Linked DNA regions of Homo sapiens. The protein of the gene in region 4 interacts with the protein of the main gene of each other region in a biochemical or structural test. Each region holds a gene or a part of one and is shown on either strand. Other genes may lie near its edges.

Region 1 (8,334 bases), on a different chromosome or scaffold from region 4:
GCCACTTTTGTTCAGTGTGACTTACCAAAAAGCTAAAATGAATGACTTTCGGGAGACCAAGATATCAATATCAAAAAAAGCCCATAGAATTAGTGAAAAATGGTTCAGCCTCGTGGTAAGAAAGATATGGAGGGAGAGGATATGTTAACAGACAGACAGTCCGCTTAGATCCGGATTCTGGGGCCTGGAACGCAAGTCAACCCTGAATGTGCAGCCAAACCGATCTGTGCTTCTCTTCCTCTCTCACCAGATCACAATTTACTGGGTGGCAAGCTGGGAGAGATCAAGCTTTGTCTGGTATGTCTTTTAAAACGTGATTAACGCTGAGCTTGATGCTAGCAGCCCGCAAGGGGTACTATAGGCTTACAGCCTAATTCCTTTCCCCAAGCGGAGCGGTACCTTCTCATCGCCTTTTTGGGGAACTACACTAAAGATCTAGTGTGCACTGAACAGGTCTGTGGGAACCAGGAAGGCAGAGGAAGGAAGGGAGGCTCCCGGGAGCCCAGGCCCCGGCAAGGCCCTTACAGTTCCCAGACCCGCCAAACCGAAAGAGAGACCCTGGAGAGGGCTGAGCCCCTGTGGGCCTGGCTGGAGGCCTCGGGTAGGATGCTGAGGCAAGAGCCACAGCGGTCCGAGTCCAAGAACCACGTCCAGACTCAGCTTAAGGTTCCGAGGTGAAAGGCCTGGCCTAGAAGGGAGGGAGAGAGATCTGAAGAAGAGGGGGTGGGTGAAAGAAACGTGGACACTACAACTGCGTTTTCTGCTCCTGCAGCTGAGCGTGCCTGGACAAGTATGTAGGATTTCCCAATTGGGGGATCTAAGTACTCTCGAAAACTATGATCAGTTTTCTATTAGGTACCCTACCCCACAACAACAGATATCATTATTTCCTGGTTGAGTGTGGGTCGCATTAGGCCCAGGACAAGTGTGCCAATTGGGACCAGTATCAAAAGAGAGCCTTGAAGAAAGAAAGAAAGGGCTTCCCAGGAACTAAGCTGACCTCTCAGTGCCTCTAGGGAAGACATTTTTGCTGGAGGCAGGGCTATGAGCACAAGTGGGGCGCCCTGTGGGTGTGCAACCGCGGTCGGGGAGCACAGGCTTCCGAAGAGAAACTGAGCTCTAAGTGCCACTCAGGCCGGACGAGTTCCAGAGGGGGACAGCGCCCTCCTCGAAAAGCCTTGGTTTCTCCCCGCCCCCTCTTGTGACAGAAAGTTGGCAAGGATGCCCCGTAGGAGTGCGAGCCGCTCCCCTCCTCCGAAAAGCCGCGGGCTTCCGCTGCTCCGGGCATCACCACCAACAGCTTCCCACTCCCACCCCTGGGACTAGGACAGGGGACTTCACCCTCCTCCTTCCTTCCGGAGGAGCCCGCGGCTTCGCCTGAGGCCTCGCGGGCCCAACTTCTCCCCACCGCTAGGGTCACGCCGGGTCCCAGGGGCCTCTTTCAAGTTTGAAAGCTCTGTGGGGGCACGGAGAGCCCACAGTAAGGATGGGTGGGCGCCTCTGCTCCCGGGCAGGCTCAGCTGTCATCCCGTCTCGCCTTGGCCCTCACCTACAGGGCCTGACCCCGGGCCAGCCCAGCTAGGCAAGGCCTCCTCGCTTCCGAGACCCCCCAGCCCCCGGGTGCAGTCCCCAGCATCGGCTGCCCCCGCCCCCCGCGCGCCCTCTGACGCAAACGCACGCCCCTGCCCCGCACGGAGGAAAGCGCTCTTGTTGGTTTTAATTGAGCCTCTTCCTTTCAACACACCCCCTCTGTCCCCACCCCTGGGAGGCGACCCCCTCCCCGCCCCCAGCCGGCTGGCAGCGGCGCAGGGAGTCTGGCTCGGCTGCTAGGCTGCGAATCCCGGTGCTCTCTCGCCGCCGCCGCAGGTTGTCTGCTCGGGAGAGCGGCTCGATGTCCCTTTTAATCCGCTGACACTATCGCCCACATCAGACAGGCAGCCATCGATCGCGTTACATTAGGGGATGGCGTTACAAACGGCGTCCGCAGGTGGGCGGCTGCAGCCAAGCTCGCCAGGTTCAGGCCGTAACCAGGCAAGGCGCGGGCACAAGGGCCAGCCGGGCCGGACTCTGCAGCCGGCTCCACCGCGGGTCGCGCTCGGCACCAGCAGGAACAGCCGGGCCGGTGTTAAACGTGCGGGTCCCCGTCCTCCGCCCGGGCATCCGTTTCCCGCCTAGGAGAGAGAGGGAATAGCGGGTGGGGGTGGGAGCAGCCTGTTTTGAATGTGGATTGCTGCTCGCCTGGCACGATCCTCCCCTCCAAGGAGGCGCGGCGGCCGCGATCCTCGCCTTAGCGCTACGGCGAGACAGAGGCCGAGCGAGGGCAACTCCCGAGCAGGCCCCGAAGAAAGTTCTCCTCGTCCCGCCCTGGCTGCCTAGACTCTGCTCTCGGCCTGCGGAGGCCGTGCGAGCCAAGACTGCCTCCCGGCCCTGCCCGTTACCAACCCCAAGTTCAAGAGAAACGACAACCATTATGTTACTTGCCTGGTGAGGCAGGATTTGGCCGAGTCTCGTTTCTGGTGCCCACGACGCACGGTCCAGGGTCCGAGGGCGGCTGGGCCGGCGGACTGGGCATCCAGTGTGCCTGCGGTGCCCTGGCGCTCGCTGTCGCTGGTCTCCCACTCCCTTCGTCTCTCTCCGCGTTCTCCTTCCCTCGCCCTATCTCCCTCTCTCCGCCTGCTGCCTCTGCCCTCGACTCCCTGCCTCTGACTGTATGGGGAGTACGATTTAGAATCTGTACATAGAAAGGTTTTCTTTTCTTTCTTTTCTTTTGGTCTATTTTAATCGTGTTCGTTTCACCTTTTAACTGACCAGAAGACGGGAGCGCGTTTGCGCGTTTATTTGGGCATAGGGACGAGGGCAAGGAGCCCCTGCTACCCCCAGTCGCCTCCTCGCCATCAGCTGCGTACAATGGGCCACCGCTCGCGGAGTGCATTGACAGTTCTCCATTATTCGAGCTGGAGGGGCTGTGGGGCAGGCACGGGAAAACCTTTTATTCTGCTCTTTAAAATCATCGCTCGTCACTAAGCGGTCGCCGACTCCCGACTTGTAGGCTGGAGAGACCAGGAAGCGCAAAACGTCCCCCAAACACGCAGTGCTTCCCAAACCCCTCCCTGGTGAGACTTAAAGTGAGAACGAGTATTAAAAAACAAACCCTACCTCTGTCAATACAGCGTGGCCATTTACTTCCACCTTTACCTGAGGGCGTGTTGGCGCTAGGAATGCTCGAGCTGAGACAAACTTTTACGCCCTCGCGAGTCGAGGGGCGGGCGGGCGAGCGCGGCTCCCACCCCCGGCGGCGGCAGCGGCGGCTTTGTCACTCCGCGCGGCTCCGCGCCCGCCTGAGCCTGCCTAGGGGAGCGATCTCAAAACGAGGGGGGTGCGAGTATGCGATTGGAGAATATGTAACTAATAGAAGTATCATTTTCCCCCAGTACGATCTTTCAAGGAAAAAAAAATCCATTGAAAGAATTTTCAAAGTGCTGTCTTCGTTTGGAGAAAAGGCACAGGCTGCCTGCGGGGAGGGGAGGAGGGACTCGGCTGTGTGCCGCCCGGGAGCGGCTCCCGTCCGCTAGGTGGCAGCCGGAGCCAGCGATTCCTGCAAGCCCCGCCGCGGGACCCGCTCCTCCCGCCTGCCCCTCCTCCCGCGACCAATCACCTTCAGGATTCAGGAATCGGGGTCTCGGTCTCTCTCTCTCTCTCTCTCTCTCTCTCTCTCTCTCTCTCTCTCTCTCTCTCTCTCTCTCTCTCTCCCCCTCTCCCTCTCCCTCTCCCTCTCCTCTCTCCCTCTCCCTCTCCCTCTCCCTCTCCCTCTCCCTCTCCCTCTCCCTCTCGTCTCTCTCTCTCTCTCTCTCCTCTCTCTCTCTCTCTCCTCTCTCTCTCTCTCCTCTCTCCTCTCTCTCTCGGTCTCTCTCTCTCTCTCTGGGTCTCTCTCTCTCTCTCTCTCTCTGGGTCTCTCTCTCTCTCCTCTCTCTCTGGGTCTCTCTCTCTCTCCTCTCTCTCTCTCTCCCCTCTCCTCTCTTCTCTCTCTCTCTCTCTCAATATCTCGCGCGCTCTCCTCTCTCCTCTCTTTCCTTTCCTCTCCTCTCTCTCTGTCTCTCTCTCTCCTCCTCCCCCTTTTCTCTCTCCCTCTCCGCCTCCCCCCCTCTCCATCTTCTCGTTTGTTTGCTCTTTTCCCGGGACTGACTTGGCCACACTAATCTCCCCCCACCCTGCAACAATATGGGGACTTACTACTGTTTTATTAATAATGATTGAAGCATTGTTGGAGTTTGGAACAGCCAGGTGATAAAAAAAAAAAAAAAGAAGAAGGAAAAATTGGATTGATTGGAAAGTTTATTTTTAAAATCATCTTTGGGATAAATAGGAACCCTTGATTCCGATCGAATTTGTGGCAATAGCTGCAAATTCCAGGAGTGTGCTTTGTCATCATTAAACCTTTTAAACCAAGGTATACTTTGGATTAAAAAATAGGGAGATCCTACCCTGTTTCTACTTGTTTCTAAAAAGGATATAAAATGAGCAGAATCCAGACTTGGATTGTGCTTATATGTGAGAGAAGAAAACAATCCAAATCCAGTATATTTCACAAATCATTAAAATGGTGGGGGTTTCATTCCCATTAAAAATTTTTCCAAACATTTTCAATGACACTCTCTTCACGCTCATAAAATCTAATTTTAAAAACTTTTCAGAAGAAATCAAAATAATTTCCCTCTAATTCTCCTTTTGCCCATCGCTAGGCGTTCTCCCCCTCGTCATCCCTTCCCCCTCTGGGGTGTGAGCGTAAGTGTGTGTGTGTGTATGTGTGTGTGTGTGTGACCATAGACGACCCATACTAATCAGGTCTCAGAGTAAATAGCAGCGCAGGGCGATCTCAATGTAAATTGCGCTTGTCAGAAACACACCCCCCTCCCTCACTTTCTCTCCTCCTCCCCACACCATCCCAGTCTGTAGGTAGCTAAGCGGGGGGGGGAGAAAGAAAGCAAAAGAGGAGGGGGGAGGGGCTCTCCAACCAATGGCGTGCAGGAGGCTTGGCTAACCTTAGCCTCCCATTTTCTCTCCCCCCGATTCAGGGCTCTGACCAGTCAGTCGCCTTTGATTATCAGTTGCCAGCAGCCCTTCTCTTGGCTCCTTGACACGAGCTCCATATAAGGCAGCGATCTCCATAGAAACGTGTCAGTTTCAATAGTAGTGTCAAAGTTCACTATATACAGACATTCGCGCAGATCCCCCTTTCGGAAACATTGCTCTGCGAGTCCTCCCGTTTAAACGCATTCAATTTTTGGGTCTCTCTCTCTCTCTCTCTCTCTCTTCTTCTCTTCTCTCTCTCTCTCTCTCTCCTCTCTCTCTCTCCTCTTTCTCCCCCCTCTCTCCCTCCTCTCCTCTCTCTCTCCTCTCTTCTCTGAACCTCTCTTCTCTTTCTCTTTTCTTACATATTCTACTAGTTGTTTTCCCCTTCTTCTTCTCCTTTCTCTCCTTTTTCTCCCTCCTCCTTGTCTCTTTTACTCCATTCCTGCAGAAGAGAGAGGGCTAAACTTAAAGAAAAAAAAAAGGAGGAGGAGGAGGAGGAGGCACCCCCTTCGTATTCTTCTTATCGTTATTTTATACATATATGATTTTTTTTGGAGGGAGGGTGTTGGTTGCCGGCTGAAGAGCACTTATTTAAAATACTAAAAAAAGAACATTTTTGGGCGATCTCCAGGGTTTTTTTAACTAGCTCTGTGTGTTATAGCAGAAGAAGCAGAAGAAGGAGCAAGAAAGAGGAAAAGAAGAGGATTATTTATTCGACCTACTTTGGATGTCTCTCTCGCTTTTCCTTTTTCCTTTTTTTGGCAATTATTTTCTTCTGATTTTTATTTTTTCTATTTCGCTGTGATTTCGTCGCCGGCGTGAATTATCCCGTATTTTTCTCCCCCTTCCGTCACCTCCCGAAAGAAGAAGGCAGCGAGAGCCCGGCGCCACCGGCACAACAAAAAGAGCAAAGTGTGTGATCTTCCTCGCCGGCTGCCTCCCGCTCTCCAGCGCTGCCTTCCTGAATGGCTGGCTGCGTCCGGCCCTGGACCTGGCCCCCCGACACCCGCGCGCCCTGATCGCCGGCGGCAGCCTCGCCCAGCGCCCTGCTCGGCTCACCGCGCTCCCCGCACTCCCGAGCCCGGCGAGGGCTCCCGCCGGGACAGCGGCGGCGCCGCGGGCGGCCCCGGCCTCCGCTCGCGCTCCGGCTGCGGCCCCGACTCCTGCTCGGACTCCGGCCCGGGTCCCGGCTCCTCCAGCGGCGCTCGCCGCAGCAGCTCCGGCGGCAGCTCCAGCGGCGCCTGCAGCCGCGACCTCCTCCTCCTCCGCCGCCGCCGCCGCCTCCGCCCTCGCCGGCTTCCTCTATGTCGGCTCAGCCCGCGCGCTGCGCGTAGCCCGAGCGGCCGGCGGGCGGGCGCCCGGCGCGGGTGAGCGACTGTGTGTGCGAGTGTGTGTGTGCGCGGGGGTGCGGGCGAGGCGGAGGGCGAGTGTGTGCGCGCGCCGTGGCCCATGCCCGCCGCCCCCGGCGCTGCGCCCCGCGCCGCTCCCGGCTGCCGCCTGTGCCATTTCTGATTTTGCAACTTGGGGAAGAAGAAAAAAGCGAGAGAAGGGAGCTTGCTCGCCGGGGGGTGGGGAGGGGGGAAGGAGAGCGCGGCCCCCCCAGGAACGGAGCGCGGGGGGAGCGGGCGAGGGGAGCAGGGGTGTTGGGGGGGGAGCCTGAGAGCCTGGGGGGGCTGCAAAAAGAGAGAAAGAAAACAGCAGGAACCACAACAAAACGCCAGCAGGGCGGGCGGGCGCGCAGCAGCAGCGGGGCGGCCGAGGCAGTAGCGGCGGCAGCGGCGGCGGCGGCGGAGGCAGCGGCCGGTGTCCGGCTCGGGCTCGGCTCCTGCGACCCCGGGGCGCCCGGCGGGCCCCCCGCCCCCTCCCCCTCCCCCCTTCCCCTTCCCCTTCCCCTCCCAGCGCGCCCGCGCGCCCCGCGGCCCTCGGCGAGCAGCTCGGCTCCCCCCAGCGCTCCCCGGGCCCAAAGATATGGCAATGGTAGTTAGCAGCTGGCGAGATCCGCAGGACGACGTGGCCGGGGGCAACCCCGGCGGCCCCAACCCCGCAGCGCAGGCGGCCCGCGGCGGCGGCGGCGGCGCCGGCGAGCAGCAGCAGCAGGCGGGCTCGGGCGCGCCGCACACGCCGCAGACCCCGGGCCAGCCCGGAGCGCCCGCCACCCCCGGCACGGCGGGGGACAAGGGCCAGGGCCCGCCCGGTTCGGGCCAGAGCCAGCAGCACATCGAGTGCGTGGTGTGCGGGGACAAGTCGAGCGGCAAGCACTACGGCCAATTCACCTGCGAGGGCTGCAAAAGTTTCTTCAAGAGGAGCGTCCGCAGGAACTTAACTTACACATGCCGTGCCAACAGGAACTGTCCCATCGACCAGCACCACCGCAACCAGTGCCAATACTGCCGCCTCAAGAAGTGCCTCAAAGTGGGCATGAGGCGGGAAGGTGAATATTTCTTCTCTGCTTCTCTCCCCGCGCTTCGCCCGCCTCCCTGGCTCTTTCTTTCTTTCTCGCCCGGGTGGTTGCTGTGTGGGGCTGGGGCTCCTGTGGTCCCGGCCCGTCCCAGCTTTCCTTCTCCCGGCTGCCTTCCTCCCCCGGCGTCTCCCCCCGCCCTCCCCAGCTCGCTGCCGCTGCCTCCCCCTCCCGGCCTGCGCTCATCTCCCCGGCTCCCCCACCCCGCCCGCTGCCTGCTCAGGATTGTGTCCCTGAGATCGTGAGCTGTGGCTTAAAATCCCCTTCTTCCCTCTGTCTTGGATGTGCTCGGTGTGTGTCTCTTTCCCGCGTGTGCGTGAGGCTGCTTGGGGCTGTGCTGGCATGAACTTGGGGAGGGGTGCTTATTTCCCCCAGAAAACTCTGTTTCTGTGGTTTTTTTTCATTCCACTTTTCCCTCCACCTCTTCATACCCTTTATTTAAAATGGGGGAGGGCTGGGGGCTGGAGTACCCTGAACCATAGATTCATTGCTGCCATCATCCTTTTGGAAGCTTAGCTCGGAAAAAGAGGAGTGAGATTTATTGCACTTGTAGGTCTAATTAGGGGGGAAGGGGGGCTTCTGGCCCGTTCACTGGTTCCCTCTCTTCTTCACGGAGCTGGGGCCGCCTCCTCCAGAGCTGTGGCCTTGTTTTCACCCCTCTACTTTGAAAGGAAAGTTTGTGACTGAACCGTGCTTTCATAGTTGTGTCATTTTTTTTAAAGCATGATACTCGTTTTATTTCTTCATCAAACTCCACCCTCTGCTTAAATACTGCATACAAATTACAATTTACAACGGCATTTACC
Region 2 (7,371 bases), on a different chromosome or scaffold from region 4:
ACTATTTCAAGGGCTTAACTGTCCAATGGCTGAAGCAACAAATGGATGACTTACTACGAATTTTTAAAACTACCAAATCAATTTAAACTAGATGAGGAGTTAGAACAAGAGCAAGGAGGTAACAATATAATGATAATTCTAAAAATCTACTTCAAGTTTTTCTATTTTAAGATAACTAAACCACTAATATGTCACACACAAAAACAAAACTTAACATTTCCAGACCAATGTATTACATCACTCAACACATTATTAGCTGCAGCAAAAACAAGTAGAGCAAACACTTAGGAGGAGGTGAGGTACAGCTGCTTGGGCAAGCTTAAAAAGACGTTATCATTGGTGAACGAGGAGGAATAAATCTGTCAATGGTAGGCACAGGAACTCAAAACAACAAAGCAATGTGGGGCCGTTGAGTACAGGGGAAAACGATTTTACAATGGGTCAAAGCCCCTAAAGAAATTACCATGCCATAGACAGACGTACTAAAATACAATATAGGAAAAACCAAACTATAATAAGCAAACTACTCTAGGAAAATTAGGAAGTATTAAATACATTTTCAAAATATGTGCCTCAAAAGTAGTTGACGCTTTTAAACTGTGCTTAGAAGTTTCAATTACCAGGAAAATTTACTAAGAAACCACATTCCCTAGAAATGCCAGAGGAAAAAAGTATTTTTGTATATACCATACTTACATTTTCACTAAGAACATTTTACGTTTTACTTGTATTCAAATGCAGGTATTTTTAAAAAACAACTTACCCAGAGGGCAAAAAAATAAAATAAAATAAAATAAAATTACATTAAATCGACAAGCACTTACCTGAACATTTTTTTGGCCAATTTCTTATTTAACACAATTTATTCATCAATATCAGCAATGTTGCTCTGGGCTACCAGTTCATAATAATAGTTTTATTGTAAAACAACTGCTTAGTTAGCACTTACGGGGGAAAAAAAAAAAAATCACTGACCTGAATTCCATGTTAGTGGAAAATAGTAGTCCAAATGAAATACATGCAAAAGATTTCAGAGCAATCCTCAAGCAACAAAGTAAAAATAATAATACTGAGATCTAAAGATATTTGTCAAAGTAACTACAAGATTAAATGATAAATTCTAGTTGTAATAAATGATAGCACTCTCCAAGCTGCTTTAAAACATAATTCCACAACAAAGATAGAAAATGAAAACGTACAATAATTGCACTTACGATGTAGGAAGCAGTCATATTTAAAACATCGCCTACAGAAAAGCGTATGAAAGGAGTGTAAGCTTTGCTCTCTCTGAACAGATTTAGCATTTGGTCCATCTATGTTGGGGGTACATTCAGGAGGAAGTGCGCCTGGGAGCTGCTGTTCGGTGAGTTCTTTATATCTGACATTAACCAAGAAAAATTTAAGTAAACATGAAACAAAAATCACTTTTTTGAAAACAGTTTCTAAAAGGTTTCCATGTGTTACTTTTGATGTTTATCTTGCCTAAAACATAAAGGAATGGCTCTATTTAGATAAAGAGCCAACTAAATATTGTGCATGGTGTTATCAAGAATCAAATTCATCGATATGATTCAAATATATCATGGAAAAGGATATTATATTAGTTTTAACTAAACATCAAATTTCTACCAGTATCCAGATAATTTTCCTGTAAATGTACTACTGTAAATTTTATGTATATGTGTGTGTTTATGTGTATATATAAATTATACATATGTATTTATTCTATCTACAGGAAATATTTTGTAATGCAGAGTACCACAAGTACACATGTTGCTTCAAGTATCTTGCAAACACTGTAAACAAAGTGTAGTGGCTCATCCGCTACATTGATTCCATTTGTAATAAACCAAAATGGTGAGTTACATACCATACAGGGCAAGATTGCCTCAAAGGAACAAATTCTTACTTTTCCTTTAGTTCTTCTGCTGTGCCCTTATCTGGAAACATTGAGGAAATGGCTTCAAAAATTTTATCAGAAGGAAATTTCCGAGGTGGGCGGCTTTCTTTATCTAAACAGGAGAATATGAAAGGAAAAAAAGAATGGAAGTAAACAAGTTTTTGATCTTTCATTTTCTCTACCCAATTATGTCTCTATAACAAAGCTGATTTTCTAAGAAATCATCTCTATTTTGTGTTTTACTTACTTCTCACATACTTTACATGTCTGTGGAATGCCAGTCAGTCAAAAACAAAATTCAAATTCAAATATGAAAAGCTTTAAGAGCACTGGGAAGCAGAAAACCTAGGTTCTACTCCCAGCTCTGCTACTAACTGATTTTGTGACTTAGAGTGATCACTTTACCTCTTGGGTCTGTTTACTCATCTGTAAAATGAAGGAGCTGAACTAGATGATCAATAAGGTCAATAAGGTACCTTTTTGTTATTTTCTCTTTTTTGAAATACGCTTCTTAGAAATTGCTATTTCACCCGCCAAATTATTCTATTCTATGCTGCCTTAGCATGAGCTTTGCCAAGTAGAGAACACCAACTATTGACTCTGTTTCTTCCCAATAGTGTAATCTTATAAGTTACTTAACCTCTCTAAATCTATCCCCTCAAATAGAAAATGGATCTGACAGGTGGGGCGCAGTGGCTCACGCCTGTAATCCTAGCACTTTGGGAGGCCGAGGCAGGTGGATCACGAGGTCAGGAGATAGAGACCATCCTGGCTAACACGGTGAAACCCCGTCTCTACTAAAAAATACAAAAAATTAGCTGGGTGTGGTGGCAGGTGCCTATAGTCCCAGCTACTCGGGAGGCTGAGGCAGGAGAATGGCGTGAACCCAGGAGGCGAAGCTTGCAGTAAGCTGAGATGGGGCCACTGTACTCTAGCCTGGGCGACAGAGCGAGACTCCGTCTCGAAAAAGAAAATGGATCTGATAATAACATCCATCTCATGAAGCCATTATGAGGATTAAGTGAGCTGGTGCATAAGAAGTGATTAGTACACAACTTGTACACGGTGAATATCAATGTTATATATTATAATGATGCCCAGTGAAGCACACAAAAAATTACGTTCTTTGCTAGCCAAAGGAAACAAAGATACTCAAGTGAAGATAATGTTGCAAGTATTATGCTTTTTTTTTTCTTTTTTAAGGCAAGGTCTCACTCTGTCACCCAGCCAGACTGTGCAGTGGCACAATCACAGCTCAATGCAGCCTACACCTCCTGGGCTCAAGCAATCACCCTGTCTCATTTTTTTACTTTTTAGTAGAGATGGGGTCTCACTATGTTGCCCAGGTTGGTCTTGAACTCCTGGGCTCAAGCAATCTGCCCACCTTAGCCTCCCAAGTGCTAGGATTACAGAGTTAGCCACCCTACCTGGCCATAATATGTTAATTTTGATTATACTGCTATCAATGTGATATTTAACAAAGAAAGAAAAAGAGAAAGAAGAAACTAAGCCCTATTTCTACTCTTTCTACTGTTTTTGAAAGAAAGCTGTAATGGCTACACAGAATCCTAATAATCAGGCATACCATCTCGGTGATCCTCCAGATCTTTCTGCTTTTCTTCTCTTTCTTCAGGATCGTCTCCATCATCATCATCGTCATCATCATTATATTGACCAAGGGCATTCACCAACTCCACAAAAATTTCATCATTTATAAACCCACATTCTGAAACGCATCAAATGTCAGAAACACACAGGAGAAGCAATAATGTCAAAAGTTTATGTATCCTTTTTCTACTTGGACAAAACAGGCATAGCCTAGTAACTGGCACTAAAACATTATTATTGAAATGAGGGGAGGAAAAGATAAGATCATTTTCAGGACTGGTGTTAGGCAAAGGAAGCAAACTTATCTTTAATACCTGCTACTTTCTGTAGAATGGCCCCTCCCCAAAACTTTCTAGTAGAAAACTGAATCTTCTAGGAACTGATTGTGGCTTTGGCCTCCTCCCAAACAATGGATCTGTCCTTTAACTGATCATTTCAGACCCTGCTTTCTGCTGATAATGACAATGGATGATGATATTACAAATATTATCCTTTCAGACACTTTAACAGGGCCTCCTGGACACAAAAAACTGAAACCATGACTCTAAGGATTGAATTTCAGGTACTGTAGTCCCTAGAGGAGCGGTATTTTTTAGTAGTAGGGGCTGTTGGAGCCCCTATATGCCACAGAAGCAGAGCCCCAATCCTAATTAATTTTACTACTAAAGAATCTTAAAATCTACATACACTCAAGTTCTATTTAATTTACATGTTATTGCCATTATGTTATAACCAACTATGCATAATTATCAGGTGGCAAACATGATCCTCCTAACTAATTTTCCCAAAAATAGTTAGGGAAAATACTGAAAATCTTAGGCCTGGGCCCAGGTTCAGTCCCTTATAGTTCAGTGCAAAACTTAATTTTAATATTAAAATTTTTCTCATGCCCTATATGCTTCATAAACAAAAGTGTCTCTCAATTCTTTAGCCCCTTTTTCCAAGAGAAGAAGCATATGGCTCACCTCTATCCCCGTGTACTTTCCCATCATAATTTTTTATTAGTTCTTCAATGAAAGTACCATCCTGATCTAAAACTTCATCTCCCATATAAGGAATGTTATGTAAAACAGTTTCATCTTCCACCTAAAAGAAAAAAATATATTTAAAAAGCAGGTTTACTCTAAGTATCAAATGTGAAATAACTAAAATACAACCTTTTTTTCATGTGTACATGTCTTTACCCAGTTCTCCAGATTTAAAATACTAGTCAGAGAGCAAACTCTAAAATTTATCAAAAAATAAAAGACCCCTCTCACCAATAAGCATATCTGAGAAAACTGTTGACAGAAAAAAAATTTAATTCTAGAAAAAATAATGCACTTAGTCTGTCATCAATCATTAAAACTTACCACCATTATTGTACATACCTCTAAGAAAGAAAAAGATGCTCTAGATTATGAGAAGACATCGTCTGTTTTTCTGTTTTTGTTTTTTAATTGAGACGAGTGTCTCACTATGCTGCCCAGGCTGGTCTCGAACTCCTGAGCTCAAGTGATCCACCCGCCTTGGCTCCCAAAGTGCTGGGATAACAGGTGTCTGACACCATGAGCCACCATGCCCAGCCATCATCAGTTTTAACGCGCACTTTAGATGTTAATAGAGGATGATGAAATATGGTGTATCAAGATCAACTATAAAGACCCATACCAAAAAACTACCCTAAGACTCCCAAACTCCACTTGATGATCCAGTTATTAAAACAGCCATTAACTTGTAATAGTTTAAGGTAAAATGAAAAAAAAATGTAAGACATCCAATATAATAAAATTCTAGGGATACAGAGTATTGATAGTCCATTAAAGTTTATGCCAAAAGGATATGTACTTATATGTAAAATAAGAACATTCTACAAAAACATAAAATATTTCAATATTTAGATGAATGAGATGAATATCAAAGTTGACAGTGCTAGTAAAGATGATAGATGAGTTTTTATCAAGCTTTGGAAGACAACAGAGAAGAAAGAAGAATAGCCAATCAAACAAAAGTTAAGACAGAATAGAATAGTTAAGCATACAAGGTAAAGAAAGTTGACATTCATAGGAGGAAGAGCATTTTCAATGAAGAATAAAAATGACAGCAGTTATAGATAAAGACTGGACAGTTCTGAAGTACATGTTTAAAGAGACTAATTCCAAGTGAAGACAAGTCTAAGTCTTAAGAGGCCTTTGAAAAGAGTATTGGTTGAAAACAGAATTTTAGAAAGATAATTATAATAAGCAGAATGGACTGGCTATGCCTGACTGGGAGGACACAGAAGCTCTTTAAAGGGTGAGATGGCGTAGGCTCGGCCCAGCACTATGATCATGGCCCACAGGTAAGAACACGCTGGGAAAGGCCACACACAGGACTAGTAGCAGCCAGGGAATGTGGAAAAAATCTCAAATAATCCCTAGGTAACAAATTTAGGACAACTGGAGAGTTCATAAAGATAACAAGTACCGTAGACAGACAAGGAAAAGAAAAAGTGGGATAAAAGGAGCATATAATTAAAATGCAGGTTTTAATGTATTCATATATTCAAATTCAAGCTTATGTACACACTAGAGGCCTGTTTTCATCTCATTTCACTTGCACTAATCTCATTTAAACTAGGGGTTGATTTCTTTCTATCTAAGCCAAAATCAAGTGACACTTAGATATTTTGTCTTTTCAATCATATCCACATCATCCTGCTCTCCAAAACGTATCTTAGTTACAATAAAGATTGTGTGCCTAATCTGCTTTGGTCAGCAAAATCAGACAGGGTCTGGCTCTGTCACCCAGGCTAGACCAGCAAAATCCATGGGTGATTCATAAATTAATGACAAATTTAAATAATATATTCTTCCAGAATTTCAGTCTGTGAAAACATGAAACTTCCCTCAAGGTCATGCAATGTAATTCTCAAACTACACTCAAATTTATACAACTACAGAAGAGTAACTGAAGTTGAGACTCTACTGTACAAAGTATAAAAGTTACTAAAAACTTCCCCAAAGCAGGTTCACCAAGGACTTCTATCAACATTTTATTAGCCTTCCCACTTTATATATCAATTAAGTAATACAACTATATATTTTTTATTTAGCAATACAAGTCAAGAACACATGCTTCAGTTTCTCTTTAGCATTTTATTACAAAAGCTGCTGCGTCAGAGTTAGCAATGGAACTATGTTTCAGCTCATGTTTCACAAGCCCTATGAATTTTACACCATAATGTACATTATCACAATAAAATGCTACCTAAAGTTGTTTTAAATAATAAGTTCTCAATTAACAAAAACTCAAAGTCAGACTTAGATTACAGGACACTGACTTTTTTAAGGATAAGAACTATAAGCTTCATTCCTTTTGTTTTTTTCAGACAGGGTCTGGCTGTCACCCAAGCTAGAGTACAATGGCACAATCTCAGCTCACTACAACCTCCGCCTCCCTCAAGCCATCCTTCCACCTCAGCCTCCTGAGTAGCTTGGGACTACAGACATGCGCCACACCCAGCTAACTTTTGTTTTGAGGACACAGCGTTTTGCCATATTGCCCAGGTGGATCTCCAATTCCCAGACTCAAGTAATCCATCTGCCTCAGCCTCCCAAAGTGCTGGGATTACAGGCATGAGCCACAATGCCCAGCCCATCTTTTAAATATTTTTAATCCTAGGTATGGTTACTGCTTAACACTTTTCCTTTGGAGAGTATAGGAAAAGAGTAATACTGCACAGGCCTTAAAAAAACTACCTTAATCAATTTTTAAAAATTACTTCAAGTGTTATTTTGATAGCTTTTTAGAATTTATACTGTCTTGATTCACCTTGACAATAAAATTATCTATGCTTTTTTACTTCAAATAAGTTATTATCAAATAAGCAGAAGATATCTTAT
Region 3 (7,975 bases), on a different chromosome or scaffold from region 4:
CTGCAGGACACGCGTCTCCATGCTGGCCAGCGTGAGCCGGCCCTGGGCACCACCGGCAGCAGAGGCCTCGGGCGGTGCCAGCAGAGGACAGCTGTCCAGAGGCAGAGACCACTGGATGGCCCCGAGGAGAAAGAGTTCACTCCACGCCTCTTCCAGCAGGATCACCTGTGCTCAGACAGGGGTGCCTGTTATGGCAGACACACAGCTTCTCTGGCTCAGTCTGGAGCCTCTGCCACCATCTCAGGCACCCAAGGAATGGAAGTGCTGTCCTGGGACCCGAGAATGCTCTCCTGACATCAGCCAGAGGCTCAGAGCTCTGGGATTTGGCACCATCCGGCTCAGCTGCCTATCATCTGAGACACTGGGTTCCATCCAGAGCTGCAGCTGGGACATTTAGGAACGCCCAGAGCCATTGGAAGTTGGGCAGCCTCAGAGACATGCCTCATGAGTGTCCTAAGTTGAGTGTATTCAAGTGGTGTGGCCTGACTCTTCTGAGTTGCTCCACCCCAGCACACAGACTGGCTGAGGGCCTCAAACCCTCCTCATGCCTCTCCTCCTGGTTTTCCTGAAAGATCTGCTTGCCCATTAGAAGCCGAGAGGGATGGCCCAGAGCTGGAGAGATTGAACTAAAATGCAAGCCCTGAAGTCGTAGGCACTTGTGCTCCAAGGGGGCCTAGAGTCAGCCACTCAGCCTGTTCAGGGTGTGCAGGTCACTTGTTACCCACAGAATGTCTGCAGGGCCTGAGGGTCTTCCAGAACTTAAGAAGACCCTGGGCCCTGTAGGTCCCTAGCCATCATCATCTCCTAGGTGTGCACCCCGACCATCATCCCTGTGCCAGAGATGCATGCACCCCCACCGTCACCATCCCTGAGATGCACCCCAGCCATCGCTGAATCAGAGGTATGTGTGTCCCCAGCCATCACCATCCAAGCTGTGTGCATTCATACTGGCGTGGGGATGTGTGTGCCCTGTCTGGTTGACTCGAGTGGGCCGCCTGACCCCAGCCCAGCCTAGCTCCCCAGCAGGCAGGCCGGTAGGTACCTGATCCCGGAAGGGCAGGCTGGAGAACACAGGCAGGTTCTTGGCCCACTTGACGGCCATGAAGAGTAGGCGAGCCGAGGTCTCATGGATGCTGTCCAGGCCGCAGGGGGAGGAAGAGGAGTATGGAGAGGAGGGGAACTCAGGGTCATTGCTGGTGACATCAATATTCTCATCAGCTGTTGGAGGAGGAGGTTGTGATCTTAGCGCCTGCTTCTCGGGAGGTGGCAGGGAGTACTTGGAGCCCCGGGGGAGGGAGGATCAAGGCAAGGCGCTGCAGCCCTGCTGTGACCCGGGAAGCCAAGCCCTGCTGTGCCCTCAGCTGCTCTCCCACTCACCATCCTCTGGCTCCAGCTTAGCACAGGTTTCAGCTGTTATAAGGCTGGCCATGAAGTGGTGGCCCAGGGCTCTGGCTGCAGACATGGGTGTGGGGCCCCGTGGGCTGCGCCCTGCCGGGGCCGGGGGAGCCACCAGGGACTCCGGCCGGGACTCAGTGTTGGACTCCATGCTGTCCAGGTGGACCTGGGCTGTGCTTCGCGGCTGGCGCTCGTTCTGCACGGCTGGGGAGGCAGGAAGGGTCAGGACGACACGCCAGTCCCGCTGCCCATTTCTTGTCACCTCCCCCCGGGCCAGCCCCCGCCTCACCGTCCTGGTTCATCCCCGCCTGCAGGCACTTCTTCAGCCGGCAGGCCTGGCACTGGTTGCGGTGGGCCTTGTCCACGGGGCACATCCCTGCCCCCACCTGGCACCTGCAGGTGAAGAGGAGACCCCAGGGGTCAGTGTCCCTCCCATGCCCTGAGCCATGGGCTTGGACATTTTTGCCCAAGCCCCTCTTCCCCTGAGCACCCCCTCACCCCTCCAGAACCCCTCAGGGGCAGACGCCCAGCAGGGCCCACCGCACTCACCTGTAGATGAGCCTCCGCCGTACGCTCCTCTTGAAGAAGCCGCTGCAGCCGTTGCAGGCATAGATGCCATAGTGCTTCCCGCTGCTGCTGTCTCCGCACACGCGGCACTGGAGCGAGGGGCTCACGCCTGAGGGGCAGGGGGCAGGGCTGGGCCAGGGCAGGGCTGGGCCGGGGCAGGGCTGCACGCTCCCCTCCTTCCCTCGGGTCCCTTTCCCAGTCCTCAGGCCCCGCTCACCCGCATTTGAACGAACCCACGCGTGACTCTTCCATCTGGAGAAGTGTCTCCCTCACTGTGCATCCACACCCCAGCCCCCACCCCCATTCCTTGCCCTCTCTCCTCCCTCAATGGCCAATTTTCAGCAAGAGTCCGAGCCCTAGCTCCACTTTCCCAGCTCCCATCCCTTCTCTGTGGGTGGCTTCAGGCTCCATCATCCCACAGAAACATTCTTGTCAACGCCACTAGGGACCTCTGTGCTGTTAAGCCCTAAGGGCGCTTCTCTGTTCTTTCCTTCCCCATCGGCTAGGCTGTCCTGTCCTGGCTCTGCAGCCTGCCCGCCCCCAACCCCCATCCCCGCCCCACCGTGTTTCTAGGATTCTGGGTTTACCCACAGGCTACCCCACCCTTGCCCACAGCCGGCGGGGCTGGGTCTGAGTTGTTCTGGCTCCTTCCATGGTCCCTGCGAACCTCTGGCCCTTACCCTGCTCCCCAAGGGCCCAGACCCAACCCTACCTCCAGGAGAAGCCATACCTGTGGGATCCTCCCCCAGGCCCCATCTGCCTGGAGACTCCTTCCTGGAGGCAGCCCCAGCTGCAGGCGCAGCTGCAGCCACTGTGGAGCTCATCAGAGCTGTTGGTCTGGTCTCCATGGGTTACAGGGCAGCCTCTGCCTGCCTGCGGGAGGCCTGGGTTGCTGAGCCTGGCCCAGCCTTTGCCTCAGTCCATGAACCTCTGTCTCTCTGTGCCCCTGTCTCCCTTCCTGAACTCTGTCTGAACTCAGGAGCTGCCCCAAGGTCCCGAAGCCCCTCACAGCACAGGCTCTGGCTTGAGGAGATTTCTCCCGGGGCAGCCGCTGGACGCAGTTTATGATCCTCTTAATCTTTACTGTCTCCACAGGGGATCAACTGGCCACACCTGCAGCATTACCAAGGTGCCCCGGGAGCCGGTCAGTCCTGCTACCCCATGCTGGTTCCCGGGCTGCCCAAGGTCCCCCGGGGCCCTCCTGCCCTGTGTGCTCAGCTGTTCACCATTTCATGCCACATCTTGAAGAGAGGTGTGGACTCCACCTCTCCCAAGGACTTTAAATCTTTTTCTTTGTTTTGATACGGAGTCTCGCTGTGCCACCCAGGCTGGAGTGCAGTAGCATGGTCTCGGCTCACTGCAGCCTCTGCCTCCTGGGTTCAAGCGATTATCCTGCCTCAGCCTCCCAATCAGGTGGGATTACAGGCACCTGCCACCACGCTCGGCTAATTTTTTTTGTATTTGTAGTAGAGATGGGGTTTTGCCATGTTGGCCAGGCTGGTCTCGAACTCATGACCTCAAGTGATCTGCCCACCTCAGCCTCCCAAAGTGCTGGGATTACAGGTGTGAGCCACCCCACCTGGCTGGACTTTAAATCCTTTTGAGCTGCTTGGCACACATCCGAAGGCAAGTGTGTGGCCAGTGTGTGTGTCTTTGCCTGTGGGGGTCCTGCCTGAGACACTCCCCTTGGGTCCTAGGTAGATCTGGCTCTGCCCCACGAGGTTCTCACTCCAATCCCTTGGAAAGGGACTGCTTGGGGCTCACGATTTGAGGATCCAGCCCCCCCAGAAGGCTAGCAGTCCCCAGACACCTGGCACAGAGGACGTTCCCAGAACCGTCCCCCGTAGGGTCTGAGGCTGGCCTGGAGGAAAGAGGCCTGGATCCCCATCTGGAGGGTCTCCTTCAGGCCTGTGAGGGGGCAGAAGAGGAGCTGGCAGGCTCCTCTGGAGAGCCAGGCCTGCAGGACTAGAGCCAGTGAGGACACAGCCACCTTGAGCCTGGCCACGGGCTCTCAGGAGTCCTCCCCTTCCCCCCGAACTCGGCCTCACAGCTCCGCCTGCCTCTTGCCACACCAGCCCCCTGCGCTGCTCCCAGGTCCATCCTTCCCACCTCCAGCCCAGCGATGCCTCTGCTCCTGTGGGAAGGAGAGGGAAGGAGGAACTTGTCTTACATCCTTGCCTTATAGTAAGCCCCGGGCCCCCGCAAGGGAGTGTGGAGAGAGCAGAGGCAGACCCAGGTTCAAGTACCTTCTCCATCACCGGCCAGCCATGTGTCCCTGAGAAAGTGACTCAATCTGTCCAAACTTCAGTTCCTCACCTGTAAAACAGGATGAGAAGAGCACCTGTCCTATGGTGTAGTTGGGGAACTAAAGACAATGGTTCAGGAAATGTGTTTCAGAGCCTGGTACTCAGTAAGAACCTAATAAATGGTGTGTGCAGCTGATATTGTTATATTCTTGGGGTTACTGAGAAGGTCACACTCAGCAGCCTTTTCTTGCCTGCTCCTCCACCCCCAGGCCCACTTGCCAGCCCCCTCCCTGCCCGGGACAGAGCTGAAAGCCCATGTTGTCCTGGAGGGGACCACTTGTCCCCAGCAGACCAGAGCTCACCTCAGGATGAGCTGGGGTGGGGTTGGTCCAGCCTTAGACCCCAAGGGGAAGCGGGCGGAGCGTGAAGCTTCCAGAAGGATCATGGAGTTAAGGGGACAGGGGGCGGGGCCTGGCCCTTATGTAAGTGGGGTTAACCCTCCCTGTGACAGAGAAGCACAATTAGGGATTTGGGAAGTCAGCTCGAGGGGCTTTGCAGGGTAATCCGCTTTCTGGGGCCTCAGAAGATCGAGGCCACCGGGCTGGGTGCTCTCACCTGTTCTCCTCTCCTCCGTCCTCACCCCTCCCTGCCTCCTCTGCCAAAAAGCCCCTCAGGACAAGGTCTCCAGCTCCACCTAAGACTGAAGCTGAGGCCATCCTCCATGGATTTGACTGGCCACTCCCTCCTTCCCGAAGCCGCTCTTTCCCATCTCTTCTGGAACACGGGTCTTTGCCTTGAACTTGTCATCACCTCCATGTACCCAGAGACTGGTCCCAGCAGCCCTTCCCGCTCTCTCCTCGGGCAGTTTCACACACACTCACGGCTTCCAGGGCCACTTCATATCAGTTCCACCGTGGAGTCCAGCTCCACATGCCCCAGACCAAACCACCCCCAATTTATCTGCACAGAGGTAGTAACCCCAGGACTGGGGGGCCGCCTGGAGCAAATGCGTGCAGGTTTGAAAATGCCTAAGGCTGAGCTCAAGGGTCTCAGACTCTGGTGGCTGGAGCCAAGGACAAGCTGATGACAAAGGCACATCAGAGACAAGACGGAAACTCAGGACAGCGCTGCGCTGTCGCGGGAGCCAGGGACGGGGAGGAATCAGCAATGGTGGTGTCACCATGCAAGTGTTCCTTCCGTGTCATGCAGAAAGGAAGCATGCCAAGTTCTTACACAGATCCTTCAAACCTCACAGCAGCCTTGTAAAGGAGCTGTCCTTACTAGCCTCAACTCATGGGTGAGGAAAAACAGAGTCAGAGAAGTTAAGTAATTTGCTTCAGGCCACACAGCTAGTGAGTGGTGGAGGAGGCTGGGGATGCAGATGAGGATTTCAAACTGTGCTTGGCACTGCACTCAGCTTTGCACCAGGACACCCTCCCAGGAGGGGCAGCTGCCTCATTGGGTTTCAGCAGCAGCCGGAGGAGCTGGTGCCCTGGGAGGGAGCATGATTCAGGAGGCCTAGTTGTGGGGAGGGAGCGTGGCTGTGAGGGAAGGAGACGGGGCTGAGGGGTGGCAGGGAGGGTAACATTAAGGAAAGATTTTTTTCCCCAACGAATTTAGATATTTAAAGAAAAATATGTTAGGAATGCAGTTCCTTTTAAAATGGGAGCTACAGAGGAGAAAGAGCCAGGAAGAGAGGTGGAGGTGGGTGTACCTCAAACCCTGCCCCATGCCCAGCATCTCCGGAGAGACACCTGCAGGCTTGAGGGGGCGGCAGCCGGCAGGAGAGAAGGGGCTGCTCCGGCCTGCAGCCCGGGCTTAAGGGCAGGCTTGGGCCAGCACCGCTCCTCTCAGAGCCTGGCTGTGTGGGCTTGGGGAAGTTATTCTGCCTCTCAGTTTCATGCTCTCTGGAATGAGTAGGATGGTGTCCCATTGGGCGGTTGTGGTGGGATTAAAGGAGGTGAACTGAAGCGGAAAGGGCAGATGGAAGGGAGGAAGCGGGGGCAGGGCTACTGGAGGAGAGCGCTTCCTTCTCTCAGGGGCAGCACACGCAGGGGAGGCCGCTGAGCGGGGCTGGCTTTGGCCCTCCTGCTCCTTCTGCCCAGACCCTTCCCATCCCTGAAGGCCTGTCCAGGGCTCACCTCCTCCAGGCTGCCTGTGCTGACTCCACAGGCCACCTGTTTTGACTCCTCAGGCCGCCTGTGCTCTCCGAGAGAGAGCTTCTCCGGGTGCAGATCTTGTCCTTACATTGAACCTCACTCCAGGTCAACTTTCTCTCCTCCATCCAGATGGAAGATTCCAGGGAACAGGCTTAGAGTTTCGGGTTAGCTGGGGATGAGGATCCCAAGGCACTTAATGGACAGAGAATCTGTTTTCAACCTTGTCTGTATTTCCCTGTATTCTGTAGTGGGTATGTATTACCTAAAATGGCAAAAACAAAACAAGCCAGGCCACACAAGAAACCCAGTCCCATCTAAATGAAAGCCCCCTGCAGTGTTTGACCGGCCCATTTTTACGCTGTTGATTTTGACTGTATTCTGTCACTCCATCACGTGGATGCCAGCCAAAATCCCCTCTGAGCCTGGCCCTGGGTTCTTTGGCAGGTCAGGCCAGCCAGAGCTGTGCCCTATGCACTGTGCTGGGGGAATGGAAGCCAAAGCCCAGCAGGGCCTGGGGGTTGGGGGGGTCTCCCCGATCTGTGATCACCAGCTGCTGGGGCAGACGCCAAAGGATTACTCAGCCCAAAGCCCTGAATCTGCTGACTAAGCTGCCAGAGGCCACCTTATCACTAATACAATTATTCCCCCAGGGGACAGGTCAGCAACTTCCTCTGACTCCCAGGAGGTCTGGGCCGGTTGGGGGTGGAATAACAAGGCGTGATAGGGGCAGCAGGACTGACCTCCCTCTGCATCCTCAGGGCCCTGGCAAGGAATCCCCTGTTCTAGCCTCTCTAGGGGGAGCGGCTCTCTGGGCTTCTTGTCTGGGGCATGTCTCAGCCACAATACTGGGTGCTGGGAACAAATCTTCCAGGATCTCTTTTTTCCTTATTTTATTTTTTTTGAGACGGAGTCTTGCTCTGTCGCCCAGGCTGGAAGTGCAGTGGGGTGATCTTGGCTCACTGCAACCTCTGCCTCCTGGGTTCAAGCAATTCTCCTGCCTCAGCGTCCCGAGAAGCTGGGATTATAGGCGCCCGCCACTATGCCCGGCTAATTTTTGTATTTTTAGTAGAGATGGGGTTTCACCATCTTGGCCAGGCTGGTCTTGAACTTCTGACCTCAGGTGATCCACCCACCTCGGCCTCCCAAAGTGCTAGGATTACAGGCGTGAGCCACTGCACCTGGCCCCAGGATTTATTTTTTCTTTCTTTCCTTCCTTCCTTTTCCTTCTTTTCTTTTTTTCTCTCTTTCTCTTTTTGAGACAGGGTCTTGCTCTGTCACATAAGCTGGAGTTCAGTGGCGAGATCACAGCTCACTGCAGCCTCAGTCTCCTGGGCTCAAGAGATCCTCTCGCCTCAGCCTTCCAAGTAGCTGGGACTACAGGTGCACACCACCATGCCTGGCTAACTTTTTAGTTTTTCATAGAGATGGGGTCTCCCTGTCTTGCCCAGGCTGGTCTCGAACTCCTGGGCTCAAGTGATCCTTCTGCCTCAGCTTCCCAAAGTGCTGTCACCATGCCTGGCCCAGGATTTATTTCTTAAACAGTCACCCACCCCCACAAATTCCTGCCCACCCCCCGAATTCCTGCCCCCCACCCCCAAGTGTCTTCAC
Region 4 (7,371 bases):
TTCTATCCCTTCCCTCCAAAAGTGGCTCCGTTTCCACAGCCCCATGCAGGCCCCAGATGCCCCCAGCAACAGGAGAGCTCTCCCCACCCAGCCAGCATGCAGGGACTAGAAACCGTGAGCCCAACCTCCTAAACCTTCTGCAATCTGTGACCTAACCCAGGCTTAGGCCCAGCTTGGGGGAAGGGAGCAGATGAGGTGCTTTTAACCCCTGAACCACCCAGCCCTCAGGACCTGAGGGCTTATGAAATTCACACAATAACTCTTTGTTACCTAGGATTACCTAGGAGTTAACAAAAATAAACAACTGGCTTTGAATCTGGTCTCAGGGTGCATGCCCTGCTCTTCAGATACCATTTACAAGATGGGTAAGTGTCATCTCCCTCCCATCTAAAAACAGTCCCCCTTAGAGCCTTAACTCTGGCATCTTGCTCTTTGTTATTCTCTCTCCATGACCTTTTTCCTTTTCTTTTTTTTTCTTTCCACAGCAGGTTATTTTTCATTTACTTTCAAATAAAAATTAGATGTCACACTTCTTTTCTTCTTGAACCTGCTTTTTTGTGTTTAGGGTGGAATCACTGCCCACCCCCTAACCTTTTAGCCATGCATGATTCATACCATGTGTTCCTACACAGAGAAGCAAACTGTATTATTTTCTAAAACAGTATCTTTCAGAAAACATTTGTATAAATGGACAAATTTAAGTTTCATAAAATGGTCCCTACTATAAAAGCTCACTTGAACAAGTAAATGGTGGTGGCAGTGGTGGTGGTGGTGGTGGTGGTGATGATGGTGGTGGTAGTGGTGGTGGTGGTGGTGATGGTGGTGTTGGTGGTGATGGTGGTGGTGGTGGTGGTGATGGTGGTGGTGGTGGTGGTGATGGTGGTGGTGATGGCGGTGATGGTACTGGTGATGGTGGTGGTGGTAGTGATGGTGGTGGTAATGGTGGTGGTGGTGATGGTGGTGGTGGTGGTAGTGATGGTGGTGGTAATGGTGGTGGTGGTGATGGTGGTGGTGGTGGTAGTGATGGTGGTGGTAATGGTGGTGGTGGTGATGGTGGTGATGATGGTGATGGTACTGGTGGTGATGGTGATGGTGATGGTACTGGTGATGGTGGTGGTGGTAGTGATGGTGGTGGTAATGGTGGTGGTGGTGATGGTGGTGGTAATGGTGGTGGTGGTGATGGTGGTGATGATGGTGATGGTACTGGTGGTGATGGTGATGGTGATGGTACTGGTGATGGTGGTGGTGGTAGTGATGGTGGTGGTAATGGTGGTGGTGGTGATGGTGGTGGTGGTGGTAGTGATGGTGGTGGTAATGGTGGTGGTGGTGATGGTGGTGATGATGGTGATGGTACTGGTGGTGATGGTGATGGTGGTGGTGGTGGTGATGGTACTGGTGGTGATGGTACTGGTGGTGATGGTGGTGGTGGTAGTGATGGTGGTGGTAATGGTGGTGGTGGAGATGGTGGTGTTGATGGTGATGGTACTGGTGGTGATGGTACTGGTGGTGATGGTGATGGTGGTGGTGGTGGTGATGCTACTGGTGGTGATGGTACTGGTGGTGATGGTGGTGGTGGTAGTGATGGTGGTGGTAATGGTGGTGGTGGTGGTGGTGGTAGTGATGGTGGTGGTGGTGATGGTACTGGTGGTGATGGTGGTGGTGGTAGTGATGGTGGTGGTAATGGTGGTGGTGGTGATGGTGGTGGTGGTGGTAGTGGTGGTGATGGTGGTGATGGTACTGGTGGTGATGGTGGTGGTGGTAGTGATGGTGGTGGTTGTGGTGGTGGTGGTGATGGTGGCAGTGGTGGTTGTGGTGGTGGTGGTGATGGTGGTGGTGGTGGTGGTGATAGTAGAGCCTTCACATTTTAACTACAATGATGTGCATTTTTCTCTAAAACCAGGAGAAAAATTAGTCAAAATTATGTGTGGGCATGAATATACAACATATACTATGTTCAAATACACATGTAAATACATAAGGAATATGCATTGGAATAACTCTGGAATAACCCTAAACTGACTCCTTTTGATTCTGGCCTTGGCTAAAGATGTGTGCCATGGACTATACCCAAAGTCCTAAATGAGGCCACAGGAGTGAATGTCCAGTAATAAAATGGGCTCCAGAGGCACAGGCATCTTCAATCACTAGCCACGGAGCAAGACAAGACCCTGGGGAGAAGACCCACAGGGATGAGCTACTATCAGCTCCCAGCCTCCAGTGAGGAAAGAAAAAGGGGAGGGAAGAAGTCCCTCTGGGGCTGAGTGGAGTGGGGAGCGGCTGCCAAGTGAGTAATGGAATAATACATATGACAATCTATTTTGGAAGTAACTCCTTCAGTACTTAAAAAGTAAGGGCAATTTCCAGAAATTCTCATCTCTATACACATGGACATTTGTAGAAGAAATAAGGCTCAACTTACAAATACCCTGCGGGGCATATTCTGCACTCATCCCAGGCGTGGGGATTAGAGCTCCATGTGCAGAACGAGGGGAGGAGAGGCCCCTCCAGTGCAGAAGTTTATCTGTGAAAGAAACCCAAAATCAAGCACTACAGCTACAAACAACGTGCATCATAAACCACAGGATATCACATTTCAATTCCATTAAAATAGATTACAACATCATTACAACAGCCTTGCAGATAGTTAACAGGCCCAAGGCCTGAAACAAAAGAAGAGTGGTGAGTTATTTCCCAGAGTTTCTGTTTTGTTTTCAATTTCGGTCTTTTTGACAAAAGTGAAAGGGTTTGTTTTAGGAAAGGGGAGAGGTGGTCTTTGGTTCATTTGCTTATTTATTTGTTGTTGTTTGATTATTGTCTTGTGGAAAGAAGATGTGTAAGCAGCAAGGGGAAAACTGGTAATATTGTGGGTAGCCTGGAAACATGGGGGGATTTTATCTGCAAGGCTGGTTTACATGCATACATTAACTTTACTTTATAGACAAACCCAAGCAAAAAGCAAAATGCTGATAGGAAATGAGTAGATTTGTGAATCGTTTTTTATGGGACAGAGTCCCACTTTGCTTTCTCTGTCCCTCTGCCCCCCTCTTCCCATGCTATATTTATGATAGCGCCTTCAGTGATAGGGGAAACCTGGGCATTTCTGGACTGAGCTGGGCCATACTCTAGAATCCTGTCAACTGGAAACCTTACACAGATGTGGCTTCTCACAATACAAAGCAATGGAAGATAAAGATTAGACTTCTGGGGTCCAAATAACTTTGACCATTAAATGACAAGGAAAGAACCAGCATTCCAATAATGCCAGCACCCAGAAACCCTGACCCATCTTCACCATTTTACTGCACTTTGTTGTACTCTGGTGAAGACAAGTGACTTCTCACACTAATAAAATGAATCTAATAGTCAATGAAACATTTGTAGCACTGAGATTTTTTTGAGAAGAGGAAAATTTGGTTTGTGCAATCTGGGGATTTTACGGTTTATGTGGTAAGTGCCTAGCTTTTCCAAGTCCTCCTCTAGCTAACTAACCATGTAGCTGTCCATCTTGAGACAGACTGGAGGATAGATGGTGCAGGAGACGCTCTGTGTGTTCTAGAGGTTTGGAGTTCATGATGATTGGGGAGGGCGGGAGACAAGAAAAACAGACTTTGATGGTGAACAAACAGTATGTTTTCCATTAGCTTAATATTAAGAGCACTTAGAAGTGTTGTTGTTGTACTCTAGGATAGCAGGTCTCAAGTGTAAAATACATCCTGTTCTCCTTATATAGAGCACACTGCCAAGCACAGCCAAGGCAGTTGGGACAAGATTTCCTTTCGCAAGGAGCCTGGTGGGTAACGATGGTGTGCTGCTGAGAAGGCTCTTACACAGACAGCATAGGTCTGCTGTTACCAGGCCTGCAGAGGGAAGCCCTGGTGGAAGCACCACCTAGCCTGAGAACATCTACAGAGACATTTCATCCTCTCTGACCCAAAACAAAATAAACACCACAAAGTGAACCAACACAAGCAGGAAGACCGGACTTAACAAACAAGTATGTCTACATTTGACTGTTTACGTCAAGTGAATTGAGAGTGTGGCGTAAAATTACTACAGATTTTGTCATGGTATTTTTCAATGAGAAATCTGAGAATCCATCTTTGCACTTGTTTTTGCCTCAGCCGTTCACTAAGTTTGCTGCCAAAACAGACATCCTTTTCTTAGGAAACACAGGCAACCCAGGTATCTCTGTGATCCCAGCATAAACGCAACAGGTACTTGGATCCTTGTATGGGGAGTATCAAATTTCAAATTCTCTGCCACTTACTCTGGGAAGAGACCCTGAAGTGCTTCAGCAGGCCTCCAGCAAGAAATGGGAGAACTGCTAACCTAATCCATGCCTAGCCCCTCGCATGAATCTCTTGTTGGCAAACTTGTCTACAAACCCATTAGCCCTAAACAAGCTGACGGCAGGACCAGATCTCTACAGTGTCTGGCCGTGTGGCAAAGTGAGGTCTCATCTGACTATCTGGCAGCATAGTTTGTTTTTGTTTTTGTTTTTGTTTTTGTTTTCTAAGTTGTAAAAAACCCTAGCTATCATCAAGTCTGTCCCTTCATTTTACAGATGGGGAAACTGAGGCCATGAGAAATTAAGTGACTTGCCCATGGCTACACTGATGATTAACCACAATGTGAAGATTAGAATTAATCTCCTGACTCCTGATCCAGTGGTCTTTCCTGGGAATTTGTCTCTTCCCCCCTGCTGCTCCTGCCGTGGTCTTCACTGCCCAACAAGAAGGTCCTGTTTCTACTGATCCATTAAGCAGTACTTAACCGTCTTGGGGGAGGGTCCAGCCCAGCAGCGCTACATGGGGCTTTCGAAAGGTGCCAATGAACTGACTTGGTCTCACAATTGGAAAACAAGGCCTGCTCTGCTGCCTGGGCCTCCTGGCCTCACCTTTGCTGTGTTCACCCTCTACCTCTGCTTCCCCTGCAGAATTAGACAGCTAAAAACATTTCTATCAGCCTAAGAAGCTATTTACTTTAGAAAAAAAGCACACTGTCTTTGTGAGACTCACCCTTGCATTTATCTTCCTTCAGGAAGAGGGTCAAAGCAAAGCCAACTGGGGACCCCAGCTGATTCTGCTGCTTCTTCCACTAAACACATCCATAATATTCTCTTTGGTAAGTAAAATCGACATTCCCACATGAACTGGAAATGCTAAATTGTTAATAGCCTCCCTAGGGCTTAACTTCTTGCTATGATGCCTTCAATTATTTCATCACGGCTTAGGCAAAGTAAAGTATCACAATTAATGCTTCTGAGCGTCAAACTCGAGGAGCAGCTCTGCCTTCCCAGGCCAAGGTGGGGAAAAGGAGCTGCCCCTGGTTGAGGGCCTCTTCTTTTCCCACCTTCGCTTTCATTCTCCCCAGCCAGAGATGGGCTCTGGTTGCTGGCTAGGAAGTGGGTGATCTAGTTATGTCCTCTTTTTTTCTTTGTTAGTGCTCTTAGGCAAGTGATTCTCACAGCGCAGACCCAGGCCCACCCCCGATCAGCATCACCTGGGAGTTTGTTCAAAATGCAAATTCTTGGGCACCACCTCAGACTTACTGAATCAGAAATTGAGGGTGGGGAAGCAGCCTTCTATGTTGAATAAATTCTCCAGGTGATTCTCATGCACACTCAAGCTGAATCAGCACTGCTGTCTTAGGGTAAGGGAAGTATGAACGCTGGAAGCTTTGAAATTCCCTGGGCAGAGACCCATGGGCCATGAGGCTGTTTTCCCTCCTGTCCAGGACCCACCTCCTTTAGGACTGGAACAGTCAAAAACAAATTAAGCTTAGGGAATCCCTAAGGATCCCTCCATTAGGAAATTCAGGTTCCACCCTCCGTCTGTCATTGATAAGGACAGGGAACAGGTCCAGGCTCTCCATCAGGTCCAGGGCCTTCTTAGCATGAGACAACACCCAAACCAGCTTGTGCCAGACAGATTGTGTCCTCACTGCTTCCATTAAAGCCGACATGTCAGCGAACGCAGCTGTGGCAACTGCACGGACACAGCAGGAACTGGACTCTTGTTTCCCTTTCTGGTCTCTCAAATGGGACACATTTCCCTTTTCTGACTCAATCTTTTTTCAAATGTCTTACACTTTTCTGGTGGAAGGTGTTTCAACCTGTTCTATTTCATAAAGGTCTCTCTAGACCCAGTATTTCCACTTGGGGCCTCAGAAATGCCTTACACATTATTAGGTTGCAAAGTTTCCTTATGGCTGAATTTAAAAATAGTGACTCTTATTTTTCAGGTTTCATTAAAAAATATGCAGCAAACTGGGAATGGCTTTGATTTAATGTTATACATTTGGTCACTTTACATTTCTACATATATTGGGTACCAACTTTTGACAAAGAGCTCTAAGCCCAGTGGGATGTTCCTGGAATTTAAGTCATTAAATCAAGTTTTTTGGTTTCCTCAAGAACATCTCAAAGATTCCTTGACTATTAACATGCTATTTGTTTCTGAAACTAATCACTGGGTGTGTAATACAGCCACATTACTGTCTACTAATCAACAGGTAATACTGCAGATTTCCAAATGTGCCAAAACAGCTAAGCAAAAAGCATCATTCCAACACGTTTAATGACTGCTTTGGGAGCCCAACTTTAACAGGTATTAAAACCACAGGACTCTCCACAGGAGTACATAGATGTGTGCTATTCACTAAAATGTACGTGTGTGTGTGTTTGCAAGCATTTATGTGTACATATGTGTGTTAGCGTGTGCATGCATATGTGTTTGTGAGCATGTGCATGTGTGTATATTGTGACTGTGTGCATGTGTGTGTATGCTTGTGCATGTGTTAGCATGTGCATGCACATGTGTGTTAGCGTGTTCATGTGTGTGTATATGTGAGTGTGTGCATATGTGTCTGTGTACGTGTGTGAATGTGTGTATATTTCCTAAACATATGTTTTTAGATAATTTCCCTGTTTTTTTTTTTTTTTCAGTGAGACAGGCACAAAAGCAGTAGAGCTGTCCCACGTGGAATGGGCTATCTCGTGACACTGTGACCCCCTTTCTTTCACCCTGGGTCTTCAAAAAGAGAATGGATGACACTATGATGAGGAGGGGTCTCTATATTGGTGACAGGCCAAAATACAGGACTACCTACAGTCCTTTCGCAGTCCATAATCCTCAAGTCCCTCAGCTCTTCCATGTACCACCTTCTAGACTACACTTAAAATGCATCCTGAACGTTTGTAAAGTACCCTGAAGGAACCCATTCCAGTTCTGAATCCGATTACTAGGTTCAAGCCACACAAATAACAACAGTGCAGCTAGTCTGAGCTAGAGGCTTCTTTACCTAACTGCAAAGTAAATGTCCTTTCTATTCAGCCGCATCTAGCTCTTGACCCTATGTTTACCATAGATA

Evidence for each region.
Region 1: the proteins of BCL11A (region 4) and NR2F1 form a complex in vitro, tested with the Homo sapiens proteins (2 studies listed by BioGRID).
Region 2: the proteins of BCL11A (region 4) and EZH2 form a complex in vitro, tested with the Homo sapiens proteins (one study listed by BioGRID).
Region 3: the proteins of BCL11A (region 4) and NR2E3 form a complex in vitro, tested with the Homo sapiens proteins (one study listed by BioGRID).

Annotation. Positions count from the first base shown.
Region 1 is NC_000005.10:93,577,986-93,586,319, forward strand, and holds the start of NR2F1 (COUP transcription factor 1), read left to right. Parts: upstream 1-5,236; 5' UTR 5,237-7,038; coding exon 7,039-7,501; exon of another isoform or gene 7,502-7,604; intron 7,605-8,334. UniProt on the Homo sapiens protein: Coup (chicken ovalbumin upstream promoter) transcription factor binds to the ovalbumin promoter and, in conjunction with another protein (S300-II) stimulates initiation of transcription. Binds to both direct repeats and palindromes of the 5'-AGGTCA-3' motif.
Region 2 is NC_000007.14:148,825,255-148,832,625, forward strand, and holds part of EZH2 (histone-lysine N-methyltransferase EZH2), read right to left. Parts: intron 4,595-7,371; coding exon 4,474-4,594; intron 3,627-4,473; coding exon 3,486-3,626; intron 2,013-3,485; coding exon 1,910-2,012; intron 1,379-1,909; coding exon 1,200-1,378; intron 1-1,199. UniProt on the Homo sapiens protein: Polycomb group (PcG) protein. Catalytic subunit of the PRC2/EED-EZH2 complex, which methylates 'Lys-9' (H3K9me) and 'Lys-27' (H3K27me) of histone H3, leading to transcriptional repression of the affected target gene.
Region 3 is NC_000015.10:71,805,579-71,813,553, reverse strand, and holds the start of NR2E3 (photoreceptor-specific nuclear receptor), read right to left. Parts: upstream 3,001-7,975; 5' UTR 2,811-3,000; coding exon 2,693-2,810; intron 2,072-2,692; coding exon 1,945-2,071; intron 1,789-1,944; coding exon 1,685-1,788; intron 1,600-1,684; coding exon 1,378-1,599; intron 1,219-1,377; coding exon 1,043-1,218; intron 166-1,042; coding exon 1-165. UniProt on the Homo sapiens protein: Orphan nuclear receptor of retinal photoreceptor cells. Transcriptional factor that is an activator of rod development and repressor of cone development.
Region 4 is NC_000002.12:60,466,313-60,473,683, forward strand, and holds part of BCL11A (BCL11 transcription factor A), read right to left. Parts: intron 2,522-7,371; coding exon 2,420-2,521; intron 1-2,419. UniProt on the Homo sapiens protein: Transcription factor. Associated with the BAF SWI/SNF chromatin remodeling complex. Binds to the 5'-TGACCA-3' sequence motif in regulatory regions of target genes, including a distal promoter of the HBG1 hemoglobin subunit gamma-1 gene.